Linked DNA regions of Homo sapiens. The protein of the gene in region 2 interacts with the protein of the main gene of each other region in a pairwise test. Each region holds a gene or a part of one and is shown on either strand. Other genes may lie near its edges.

Evidence for each region.
Region 1: the proteins of GBP7 (region 2) and CPNE2 interact in binary tests that used the Homo sapiens proteins (3 or more experiments, as listed by UniProt).

The regions. Positions count from the first base shown.
Region 1 is NC_000016.10:57,144,583-57,148,869, forward strand, and holds the end of CPNE2 (copine-2), read left to right. Parts: intron 1-1,502; coding exon 1,503-1,739; intron 1,740-2,968; coding exon 2,969-3,076; 3' UTR 3,077-3,787; downstream 3,788-4,287.
Region 2 is NC_000001.11:89,172,682-89,180,945, forward strand, and holds the start of GBP7 (guanylate-binding protein 7), read right to left. Parts: upstream 3,323-8,264; 5' UTR 3,240-3,322; intron 1-3,239.

The DNA.
Region 1 (4,287 bases), on a different chromosome or scaffold from region 2:
GATGTTACGGATGGGGGAAACTGAGCTTCCCCTAAAGGGGTCAGCGGGTACTAAGGACAGAGCTGAGCTGAAAATAAGTTCTTGGCTGGGCGCGGTGGCTCACGTCTGTAATCCCAGCACTTTGGGAAGCCAAGGCGGGTGGATCACCTGAGGTCAGGAGTTTGAGACCAGCCTGGCCAACGTGGTGAAACCCCAACTCTACTGAAAATACAAAAATTAGTCGGGCATGGTGGTGGGTGCCTGTAATCCCAGCTACTTGGGAGGTTGAGGCAGGAGAATCACTTGAACCCAGGAGGTGGAGGTTGCAGTGAGCCCAGGTTGTGCCAGTGTGGGCGACGGAGCGAGACTCAGTCTAAAAAAAAAAGAAAAAAGAGTTCTTGGCCAATTTGGAATCCTGGGCCCTCACCCTCAGATGGTCCAATGAGCCTTCCTGCACTTCACTCAGGCACACCCCGGCCCCACTTCACAGTTTGTATTTTATATATCTCCCACACTAATTATTCAATTTTTAAAATTTAATTTATAAAGAAACTCTATATCCCATTGTAAATGAAAAAAAGCAGTATCACTTGCCATAAATAGAGAGTAACAAAAATAAACACAACAAGCTGTACAATGGTATTAAAGCCTAGCTGGAGACTATTGTCTCCTCAAGCTCTGGGCTTCCTGCCTTCCCTTTCCGTTGATAAGGAAGCTTAGCAAATGTTAGAGAGACGTGAAAGACACAGTAGTACCAAACCAAGACTTGCTCCTGGGTGCAGTTCATAGAATTGAAAGGCCACTGCAAACCAGTCCTCTTCCGGGGTGACTTGATGACTTGATGGTGCTCAGTGCTGTGTTTGGGATGTGACTCAAATCCACTTATTTGTCAGCAGAGTCCCACACTCCTGGAAGCCCTGGCCCAGACGACCTGCTTTAGCTCCCGCAAGGTGTCTCAGATTGTCGTGTTGAGTAGGGAATGGAGGGGGTCACAGGTGCCCATGCCCAGGTGCAGCAGAGAGGGGGAGACCGGTCCCAGAGCAGCCCATCAGCCAGATGAGTCCCCCTGCGCCAGCCGTGGGCCTGTCGGGAATGCAGCTGACTGGGCCACTGCCACGTCAGGCACATTATCTGCAACAACTCCCACTTTGCAGATGAAGAAACTGAGGCACTACGAGTCAAGTCAGTTGCCTAGAGTCCCACAGTATAGCAACTGGCAAGGCCAGGCCCAGAGTCCAGGGCTCTCAGAGGCCCCAAGGGGGAGTCTAAGATAACACACAGGGCAGGAGGGGAGAGCAGTTTGTACTTCCTGCTGTGACCAGGTCAGAGTTTAGAGCATGAGAGGCCTGCAGGGGTGGGGTGCTGAGAGCAGGACGCATAGTGAGTTGTCTGGGACTTGGCTGCAGCTGGGTAAGATGCACTGCCTTCCTCCAGGACTCGGAGGGTTTGGGATGAAGGAGGGAGGGAGAAGGGGTGCCAGAGCCTCGACCTTGCTGAGTGCCCCGTTGGCCCCCTCCCTGCAGCAGTACTTCATCCTCCTCATCATCACGGACGGGGTCATCAGTGACATGGAGGAGACACGGCATGCCGTGGTGCAGGCTTCCAAGCTGCCCATGTCCATCATCATCGTGGGCGTGGGCAATGCGGACTTCGCTGCCATGGAGTTCCTGGATGGGGACAGCCGCATGCTGCGCTCCCACACGGGGGAGGAGGCAGCCCGCGATATTGTGCAGTTCGTTCCCTTTCGAGAGTTCCGCAACGTGAGTGTGGGCCTGGGCTGGGAGGGGGCGGTTACAGGATCCCAGCCACCATAGCTCATAATCAAGCTTGAGAGTCTTGGGGTTGTCTGGCCCAATCCTAGACTTCTCCACTCCATTGACTATGCTCTTCTGAGGGCCTGCCATGTGCCAGGCGCCGTGCCAGGCCTTGCCCCGGTGGTGGCCATTGTGATAGTGTGAGCACTTGCTTCCACAAACTGATGGAACATGGAGCCGTGGGCATCTAGCCTGAGGCTCTGGGGCAGGGCTTCCTGGAGGACCTGCCCTCTAGTGGGGTCTGATGAGAGGCTGGGGCTATCCATGTGGTGTAAAGTGCAGGAGGAGAGAGGGGTTTTCCTGATCATCACGCCCCAGCAAGCCCCCTCATTTTGTAGACGGAAAACAAGGCCTCCCAGTCATCTTAGGTTGACCTCCTCTCCCTAAAGCCCTCTGCCTGGGAGAATGGTGTCCCCAGCCTTGTTCCTGGAAGTGGCTCTGGCTTTATTTGCAGGTGATCCCAGATCTGCCCACAAGGAGGCCGGGGTTGGCCTCCTGATCACTGCCCTAGCAGCAGGGTCCATGAGGAGTCCCATAGGGGAGCAGTCTCTCCACTGTACCGCTGTACTGTAATGCCACCCCCATACTGCTGGCTGGGGGCTTAACCCAGCCTCAGCAAGAACTGCCCATGCTGGTTTGCACCCAGTGGCCCTCACCTCTCTTCCCAGCATCCTCTGGGGTTGCCTGCGATGGTTCTACTCCTTCCTCTGGAGCATTCGCTTCCTAAGGACAAACCCTGGGCATCGGTCACCCCTTCATGCACAGGTCGGTGACCGAGTACCTCCATGTGCCTGGCCTGTGGCTGGCTGTTCACTAGTGAACCATACTGTCAGGCCCATTTATTCCCGCCAAGAAGGTGCTCAGGAGATGTTTGCCGGACACATAGGTGCTTCCCGCAGACGGAGTCATCCTAACCCGTTACTCCCAAGCATCTCAAGTGCTCCAGGTAACACTTACACCTAACCTAAAGGAAGGCACTGCGATCAGGGGGAATTTCAGGCCTGGCCTGGGCTGAGATGAGGGATGCCACTTGCAGACAGCCCTGGCCCGCAGCCCTAATTTTGTCCTCAATGGACACCTGCTGTAGCAGCCCTCTGGGCATAGTGCCGCTCACAACTTCCGGTCATTAATCCTTATTCTCTCTCTTCCCCACCCCACCCTCCTCCACCCTGCAGGCAGCAAAAGAGACCTTGGCCAAAGCTGTGCTGGCGGAGCTGCCCCAACAAGTTGTGCAGTATTTCAAGCATAAAAACCTGCCCCCCACCAACTCGGAGCCCGCCTGAGCTCCAGTGCCCAGCAGCAGCATGTCAGCTGAGCCTCCTGCCCTCCCCCAGGAACATGCACGCTCACTCTGCTTCCTTGTGGGTGGCCTTTTTTTACCGATCCCCTTTTTTATTTTTTACAACCGGACCTCCACCCCCAACTTCCTCCAGCCCAGCTGGGCTTCCTTTGTTGGAGTCAACTGTTGATGCTTCCAGGCCAAACTGGCTTCCTCTCCTCCTCTCCCCACCTTTGCCATTCTTAAGTATTGAATGTACTTTGTATAATTTTAGTGGAATTGTTATTGAGAATAAAATTTTTACAATCATAACTGGCTTTTTCCAAGTAACTAGCTGCAGACTCTGATGAAAGAAACATGTCCTTGGTGCATACGTGTCGTAGCCTGCACCTAATTAATTCCTGCTGTTTTTTTAATACTGTGACTGTGTTCTATTTGTTATATGCTCAGGGTAACAAATGAGTTTCAGACGTCCCTGCGTCAGCTCCTTCCTCAGCAGGGACCTGACGGGCTCACTGATCTAAGAAAGGAAATGGAAAATGAAAATCCACCCCACAAGTCTAATAAGTTGGTGTAGTCACTTCTGCATGGGGACATGCATTCCAGATGATAACCTGTTAAATCACTGCCAGTTAACAGTGATAACCTGTTAAACTGGCACAGAACCTGGCACATTGTACAAACTCAATAAATATTCATGGATGAATAGAATGAATGTGCAGGCCCATACCAGTTTCTGACATATCCCTACCCCACAACTGGACAGCAGTCCCAGCCACCCATCTGCTCCTCCTTGGGTCTCCCGGGTGTTTGGGTTGGCCACCTAGAGGTCTGTGAAAGCCTCTCTGGCCTCAGGACCCAAAATGGGGCTGCTTCTGACCCTGCTGTTTCTTCCACATCCCCCTCTCTAGGCTCAGGCCCAGTTTTATGAAACCAGCCAGAGGACCCCTCTCTGAAAGTTCAGCCCCGCTCCCAGGTCCCTCCTTTATTCCACATAACACCTCTTTCTCCTTTATCCACCTGACTCCCGCTTGGACCTCCAGGTAAGCCCCCTGGACACGGGCTTCCGTGTAACCAGTAACAGCTAACCCTCCTATTAAGCACTTTGTTTCCAGCTCCGTGTTCAGTATTTTGCAGGCACTTTTTCTGAGACAGGGTCTCACTCTGTCCCACCCAGGCTGGAGTGCAGTGGTGTGATCTCGGCTCACTGCAGCC
Region 2 (8,264 bases):
GTTATGTGCCACTTTGTCACTAAAAAGTTTCCATTTTGAGAAACAGTTTGGAGACTATGCAAATACAATCTCATCATACTTTTTTTTTTTTCAGCCACTACTTTTAGTTTTTATTGATGATTCTTTTTGTGGTGTTTGACTAAATAGGATTTTCTATTATAGTCATTCTTTCTATATTAACTGGAGTTCTACCGTGAGCAAGGGCTGTTCCTTCTTTATTTATTTTGTTTGCTCATTTAATCATTTACTTGTATCAATGCAGACTCAGAGATATTAGTTTTATTCTGAGGGTTTCAATACTTTACTGTCAATATTTGTTCTGTTACTCAACTTGTCCTAGATTTTGTCATTGAGAGCTTCTTCAAGCTGGATCCATTTTTTTTTTACATGCTTCCATCATATTTTCAGCGCTTCTTTCCTTTTTGGCTCCACAACGTATTCTAGAAAAAATATCTGTATTTTTCCTGCTTTATCCCTAGAATCTAACATTTCTCCCAGTATCTTTGGTTTCTTTCAATGGATAATGGTACTTTGACACCAATATATCACTCTAGGTGTGTTCATTATTTCTAGACCCACTCAGGGGCAAAGTTAAGAAATATATGTATGTATACTAGGACACATCTATATTTATTTTTATCTGTACATTTCTATAATAAAGCTTGAGATTCTGTTGATATTTCCAGTTCCAATCCAACACATCTGAGCTTATTCAAGCTTTTGACTTTCCTTTTTAAACTATTTTCTCCAAGTAAGCTAGACTTTGGTCTTCTAACACATAATACATTTGTTTCCTTGCTCAGTCCTAGTATATTCATATAGTAGTTTCAAAATTGATAATAAGTCTGTGGAAAAATAAATTTACTTCCTATAGAAAATTATTAGTGTACAGTTCTTTTGGTCTTTAGCCTTATATACACACTCAAAACATTGCATTCCAAAGTTGCTTAGGTTAGCTTTTTCCTTCTCCACCTTCTTCAGTATGGTTAAATTATTCATTTGTAAAACAGTTAGTTACATTTGTTACTGTTTGTGTTTCAGTTTGGCCTCCTTCACATCTTGGTATCTTGGTTGATTTTAAGTATGATTTATTTTTTGAGTTTGTGAAACATCATGGTTCTGAAATGCAGAGCTTTTCAAAAAGTTACAGTCAGAGAAGTGTCACTTTTCCTTCATCTTACCACTCCACTCACATTGCAGTGGTCTTCTATTCTTTCTACCACATTCCCACCCATCCTCCATAGATACCCAATCTTGTTAGTTTCTGGTTTACGCTTCTTGGATTTTCTTTTCTCAAATGAGAATGTACATATTTTCTTTTTCACATTTTCTAACACGAAGATCACATCATATAGAAATTTGGAAATCCCTCCACATCTGTTCATAGAAAGCTTTTAAAATCCTTTTAACATGTATCTACTCCTTTATGTGGATTATACCCCAGTTTATTCAATCACTCTTCAATGTATGGGCATTTAGATTGTTTCAAATATTTTGCAATTACAAACAATGCTGCAATGAATAACTCTGCTAACGTTATGCATGTGTATTTTTATATTGTTACAGGAGTAATTTCAGGATAGAGTCCTACCAACGGGATTGCTTGGTCAAAAGATGAGAGTATATAATTTTGTAGATATTGCCAAGTTCCTCTCCAGAAAGTTGTACAAGGTTGCATTCCCACCAGCTCATCTTGTATGTCATTTTCTAGAAAATGGAATTTTTCCTAGGTGCCCCGCTTGCTCTTCTGAATTAATTACAAAATTTCCTTTGGAAGCTTTTCACGTTCACATTTAGATCTTTGGACTGAGCAAAGCTGAGCTCGCTGAGCTCATGTATATAGTAGTAGTAATCTTCACCTGGGAAACATTGTGTTATACATATCTCTATACTTTGAAACATAGATACCATTCTAACCCATTCTTGGTCCTGATTTCTTGCAAGCCCCTCTGTGGGCAGGGTCTGGTCAGACTGTGGGACTCAGGTTACCCAATGGCTTCCTCCTCTCACTGTGCATCAGCATTCACACGTTATTCATGCAAGCCTGATAGCTCGCACCTGACACTTACTCTGTTGATTTTTGACTTGATTATGTTAACAGATTTTGAATTCTCTGCATTTGAAGATTGATTCTTTATTACCTCCATGTATATCAGTCTGCATATTGTTTTTAATTATTTCATGTAATGAAGTCACAGCATGAAACATTCTTTGAAAAACCATGGCTTGTTTTTTGTCTGATCTCTGCTGTATAGAGAGTAGCATATGCACAATTGTAATCATGCTATCTTTATCCAGGGCTTGATAAATTAAATATTTTGATAATTTTGTAAAGTTAAAAGGAGTGAAAAGCCTTCTTGTAGTGATGCTTTAATTTTGTGTTTTTAAGTTGAATGTCTCAATCCTTGTAACTTATGTGATCATGATACAAAATATATAATCTCTTTAAGATACAAGCAAATATAGATGATAGATACTGCAGTTTTCTTTTTTATCCTATAATAAAGAGTGGTTTGTTTCCACTATAGAGTTGGTTACTTCTGACTTGTTCCTCTGGAGGTTTATATTAAATTATCTGGCTTCCCATCACTTCAGCAGAAGATGGAAAAAAAGCCGTTTATTTTTCTGTGATCATGACCCATTTCCTCTTATAGCAATGGCCTACAGGATCTGCTGGCAAGCAAGAAGGGCAAACCAGAAACTAAAAAGATTGGGTATCTATGGAAGATGAGTGAAAACAGAGTATGCGTCTGTCCAATTCTGTAGCATATACTATGCTACCATAACATAGGAATCAATCAGTCACCGGCTCAGAAAGGTGGTGGCACAAAGATGTTATAAGGTCCTGGATTATAATAATGTGTTGCCTCTTTTTGCAGATCCCAAGTTGCCTACCTTCATTTACCTAGAGCTATAAATGTTGGGCCCAATAAAGAAAGTGACAGAGCCTATTAGGCAGATATTTAAAGATAACAGTAATTTAAGATGGTGTCAGAAAAGAAATAACAATCTTAGAACACTGGCTTCTCTGAATATCTGTTCCACCTCTGCTGAAGCCTAATCTGACACAGCAGGAATTAGAGCACACTAAGGTACACACAGCCACCTAAGAGGCCAGGATTTCATCTGGACTTGTATCCTGTAGCTGGCTCAGCTGCAGCCTATCTTGGGGATGGTCAACTTAGAGAAAACTAATGGATCCTTATAAATCATGAAATCCTTATAAGTCATAGTCTTACCCAGAGTAGAGATCCTCTGGACTTGGTAAGAAGGCAGCTTCAATGAGAAAGTTATGAGTCTTTATTCTCTTCTCTTTAGTTCTGAATTTGGCTGCACTGATTTCTCCCACTTTTTTTCTTGCTGGAACTTTGGACTTTTACCTTACCTCTCCAATGTCATGGGGCTTTCCAGACTTTCTAGAGACCTGTATTTATACATGTAAAAAACAATGCAACCTCTGCAAATAAATAGAGTAATATGACAGTCCATGATTTAGCAACAATAAAAGAAATTGCTGACAGCTGTGCTAGTGAGAGGATTTGACATAATTTCTCAAACAGAATCTTCCAATTTTATTATTGGAAGAGATCTTAGAGACAGCTTGCGATTATTAAAAAAACTTCAATGAATCGTTTAAAATAATGACATTCATCTCATGTTTGTGGGCCACATTGAGAAGTACAGGAATAAGAAAGCTTAATATAATATTATTTAGGTTCAATTGGCTTGAATATTAGACTCTTAAAATGGAACTCATTATTTGTGTTTAATAATGAGGACTCTAAATGCCCTGAAGGAATGTCCACGTCTTATACATGTTTGAATTATTAGCACCTAACTCAGGTCTTGGCACTTAACATTTAATAAATAATAATGAAGATAGTACCCGTTTTGTTTACATAGATTATCCCATTGTATTCTTATCACAAATACTTTTACCACAATGTTAAAAGAGGGATTTAATAATTTATTACAATTACAGAGCTACTAAATAAGATTTGGGCCCAAGAAGTCTTGCTGTCAGTCACTTCATTAAAATACCTCTGTGTTTGCTGAGTGTACAATAACAATGTTTTCTCCTTATCAGTTCCATTCTAGGCCATATTCTTTACACATACCATTTTAAATATCAAAATACCTCAAGATAAAGGTTGTTTATTATCCCCATTGTCCAAGGGGGAAAAATAATCAGAAAACGGGTAATTAATATGTCTAACTAAAGCCATTGAGCTACACACCAAGGTAGCAAGTAATTGAGCGAGATTCAAACTTGAAAATCCATTTGGTTAAAACCACATTGATTCTCTACTGCACATTGTCTCTAAAAGAGAGGAAGGTGGGAAGCGGGGAAGAGAGAGAGAGAAATGGAGAGCAGAGAGTAAGACTTCTCTGTGTGTGTGTGAATATTGATGAGATTTAAAGTGAAAGTAAGGCAGGGTTATTTCAAAACAGAACTATTGCTAGGAAATCACCTGCTTCTAAGTAATAAAATCTATTGTTTATATCATGCAAACAAAAAATAGCCCCAGGCAAAATTGAATCTTTGTGAATCATGTATAATTTAAGGGTACATAAATTTATAAGAAAAAAAGATCCCACTTTCCCAACTTGTGTTTTTTTTTTTTGAGACAGAGTTTCTCTCTTGTTGCCCAGGCTGGAGTGCAATGGTACAATCTTCGCTCACTGCAACCTCCACCTCCTGGGTTCAAGCGATTCTCCTGTCTCAGCCTCCTGAGTAGCTAGGATTACAGGCATGAGCCACCAAGCCCGGCTAATTTTGTATTTTTAGTAGAGATGGAGTTTCTCTATGTTGGTCAGGCTGATGTCGAACTCCCAATCTCAGGTGATCCACCCGCCTCAGCCTCCCAAGGTGTTGGAATTACAGGTGTGAGCCACCATGCCAGACCCCAGCTTGTTTTTAGAGTGTTTCTTTAGAGACAAGTGGGCCAGAGTCCTTTCTTTAACCTTTTGAATACAAATAGAGCTTTCTAGGGGCTAAATATCAGTGCCAGCTTTACAACCCAGAGATGTCTTCAAGAGTCTGGGCTCCATGCCTTTTGAAATGGAAATATCCAGAAAGACAGAGACCCAGGCTTCCTGACACTTTGGGAGCTTAAGCCCGGTGCCTATCCTGTCTATAGCCATTTCTTCCAAGGGAGATAAATTTTAATATTCTTTTAGATAAGCAAATGGCTACCACATTTCCAAGGTGAGCATAGGATGAAGAATACAAGGAAGGTATAGCAAATTTGAGGATGTACCAGCAAATTGTGTTGTCAATTCTCTAATGGGAAAACAGGATGGCATTGATCCTAGGGAAACATGTTATATATAAACCAGCTAAAAATAGTGCAGTGTAAATGCTGGGCGAGGTGGCTCACACCTGTAATCCCAGCACTTTGGGAGACTGAGGTGGGTGGATCACTTGAGGTCAGGAGCTTGAGACCAGCCTGGTCAACACAGTGAAACCCCGACTCTGCAAAAATACAAAAAAATTAGCCAGGTGTGGTGGTACATGCCTGTACTCCCAGCTACTAGGGAAGCTGAAGCAGGAGAATCGCTTGAACCTGGGAGGCAGAGGTTGCAGTGAGCCGAGATAGCACCACTGCACTTCAGCCTGGGTGACAGACTGACAGTCTCTCTCAAAAAATTATTTTATAAAACATGAATAAGAAAAGACATTAAAATTAAAATTAAAATGACTAACAGTCACCATTATTACATGTAATTGAGACTACTAAAATAGTTTTACATGCAAATTGTATAAGAAGAATAGAATGTGTTTTTTTTTTTTTTGTAAAACGTTATAAGAAGGTATGGAAAAGTAAATTATTGCCTAGGGTTAAACAATTGTTTTAAATTAAGATAAAGCTAAAAGTTCAAATAAGTGGTGGAAGGTTTCTAAAAATCTTGCAAAAGAAATTCTCTGTGTGAACATATTGACTAAATTCAGAAAGGTATTATATTGTTTTTCTGTAAACTGAGCATTAAAAGTACAATAAGGTTTTCTTAAGGCACTAATTTGCTCTTCGGCAAAATTTGTAAAGGGTTATAAAAGGCTTTTGCTTCTTTAATATTTCTGAGTCAACCTTTTGGCAAAATACATCATTCATGGTAATCTGGAATTCTATTTCATAGTATCAAGTGTTTTAAACTCCGAACATATTTAACAGCCTTCCCAAAATCAAACTTCAGTTTCAAAATTGTCTTTCCCGATGCCTGGCTTTTTGGAAGGATCAGGGGGCCCCTGAATCACCCAGAGAAGAGGTAAACAGGATTATTTAACATGTTTAGGTACATAGTATTGCCAAAATGTTGTTCAATCTTTAGGTTATATTTTTGTGAATAATGCTAATATATGTCCCAAAATTGTATGAGATTTCTAAAATTTTTAATGTCTAAGTACATGCTGTCAATTATAATTATAGTTATTATATTAAGTTATAGTAGACCACATAAATAACCAAATTTCCTTGTATAAAGCTACTAATCTAAGTAGAACAAAAAAATTAATTGAATAACCAGGTTTTGTTTTTCCTCTTGCAAATGTCTGTAACGAGCATTCTTAACAGCATAGGTATCCACCTCCTGAAGTTCCAGTTAAATCTTTTAACCAAATTCACTTTCTCTCACCTAGAGACCATCAAGCTTCAGAAGATCATGTGACAAATGTTCCAGCCAGTTCCAGTTGAAGACACCACCCCTGGCCATCAAGAAGCTACTCTGCCTCCACTAGACAGAGCAGGGTGACAGTTCCGTGATCCCCAATAGGTAGGGACTTTGCTTCAAGCCAGCATGAGGCAGTTACAGAAGAAAGACCATTAGTCACTCCACCTCCCATAAAGATTTATGGGGATGACATCTCTCAGGGAGGAAATGAGGCAGGAAAATAGGATCTGGAGGCATAGAACATAAGGCCTATTCACACTTCAGCTATGCCGGGAAATATTATCTCCATTTACATAGGGCATACACAAAGTAACCAATGGAAACCTCTAGAGGGTATTTAAATCCCCCAAAATTCTGTAACAGGACCCTTGAGCCCCTATGCTTGGGCCCACTCCCACACTGTGGAGTGTACTTCCATTTTCAATAAATATCTGCTTTTGTTGCTTCATTCTTTCCTTTCTTTGTGTGTTTTGTCCAATCCTTTGTTCAAGATACCAAGAACCTGGACACCCTCCACTGGTAACAATAAGCTTGAGGAACATAAAGTCAATGGAGTGTCCAGTCCCTCAGAGAGAACAGGGTGGCAGATTAAGACAACTGGGCATATTCTTTCTGACTCAGTGAGTCTTTTCTGCATGACTTCCTAAGATTGTATATTTTATGTTGAGAGCTCTAGAGATTGGGAATACAGTAAAGATATGGTAAATTGGGGACCTACTGGAGGGTAGAATATGTATTTAATCAACCCAAACTTGAGCCTCTGTGCTGGCTTTTGTAGTTGGAACTAAAGATAAGTTGATGAGGAAAATGAAGCGCCTGAGATCAAGAGGTGGTAGAGAGAAGTAAATAAGCATTTTTAATTTCACAGTTATATAAAAAGTTCAATGGTAGGAGTAACAAGTTGGTGCCATGGCAACCCAAAAGGGGCATCTCACCAAGCCTCAGAAAGTCAGGAACCAGGACATCTTAAGGATGAGCAGGATTTGGTAGACAAAGGATAGAAGGTGAGGAAGCAGGGTTGTTTTAAGAAGTCTTTGTCCCCTGCAAAAGGGCCCTCAGTCAAGAGAATACTAGTTGACAACCCAGGGAACGTTGTATTTGACCATATATTTGGGGATAAACTTTGAAATCTTGTTGAAAGGCCATAATAAAAACAAAATTAGGATGCATGTTTTGTGCCCTTTCTAGTTCTCTGTTCCAAAGAGAAGATGTTTCCTGTTGAGCAGACTTATGCTATTTCTAGTAATATTAATTACTTTCATCCTGTTGTGGGACCTCTGCCATCCATGTATTATGATTTCAATTTTTAATTTGAATAATTGTATTTATCCATTTTTGAATACATGATGAATTTACATAAAATGTTGAAGACATATATGATGTAGAGTTACCCTCTCATTTCTCACCTTAACTATTCAGTTCCATTCCTGGTATGACCAGGATACTAGTATATTTTTTATTTTTCCAGAGGGAGCTAATAATGTACACACATATTCATTAGTTCCTAAATTAAGTGGTAGCAGCATACTTTCTGCATCTTTTTTTTTTCTAATGCTATATCTTGGATACTTTCTCATAGTAGTACAAATAAAGCT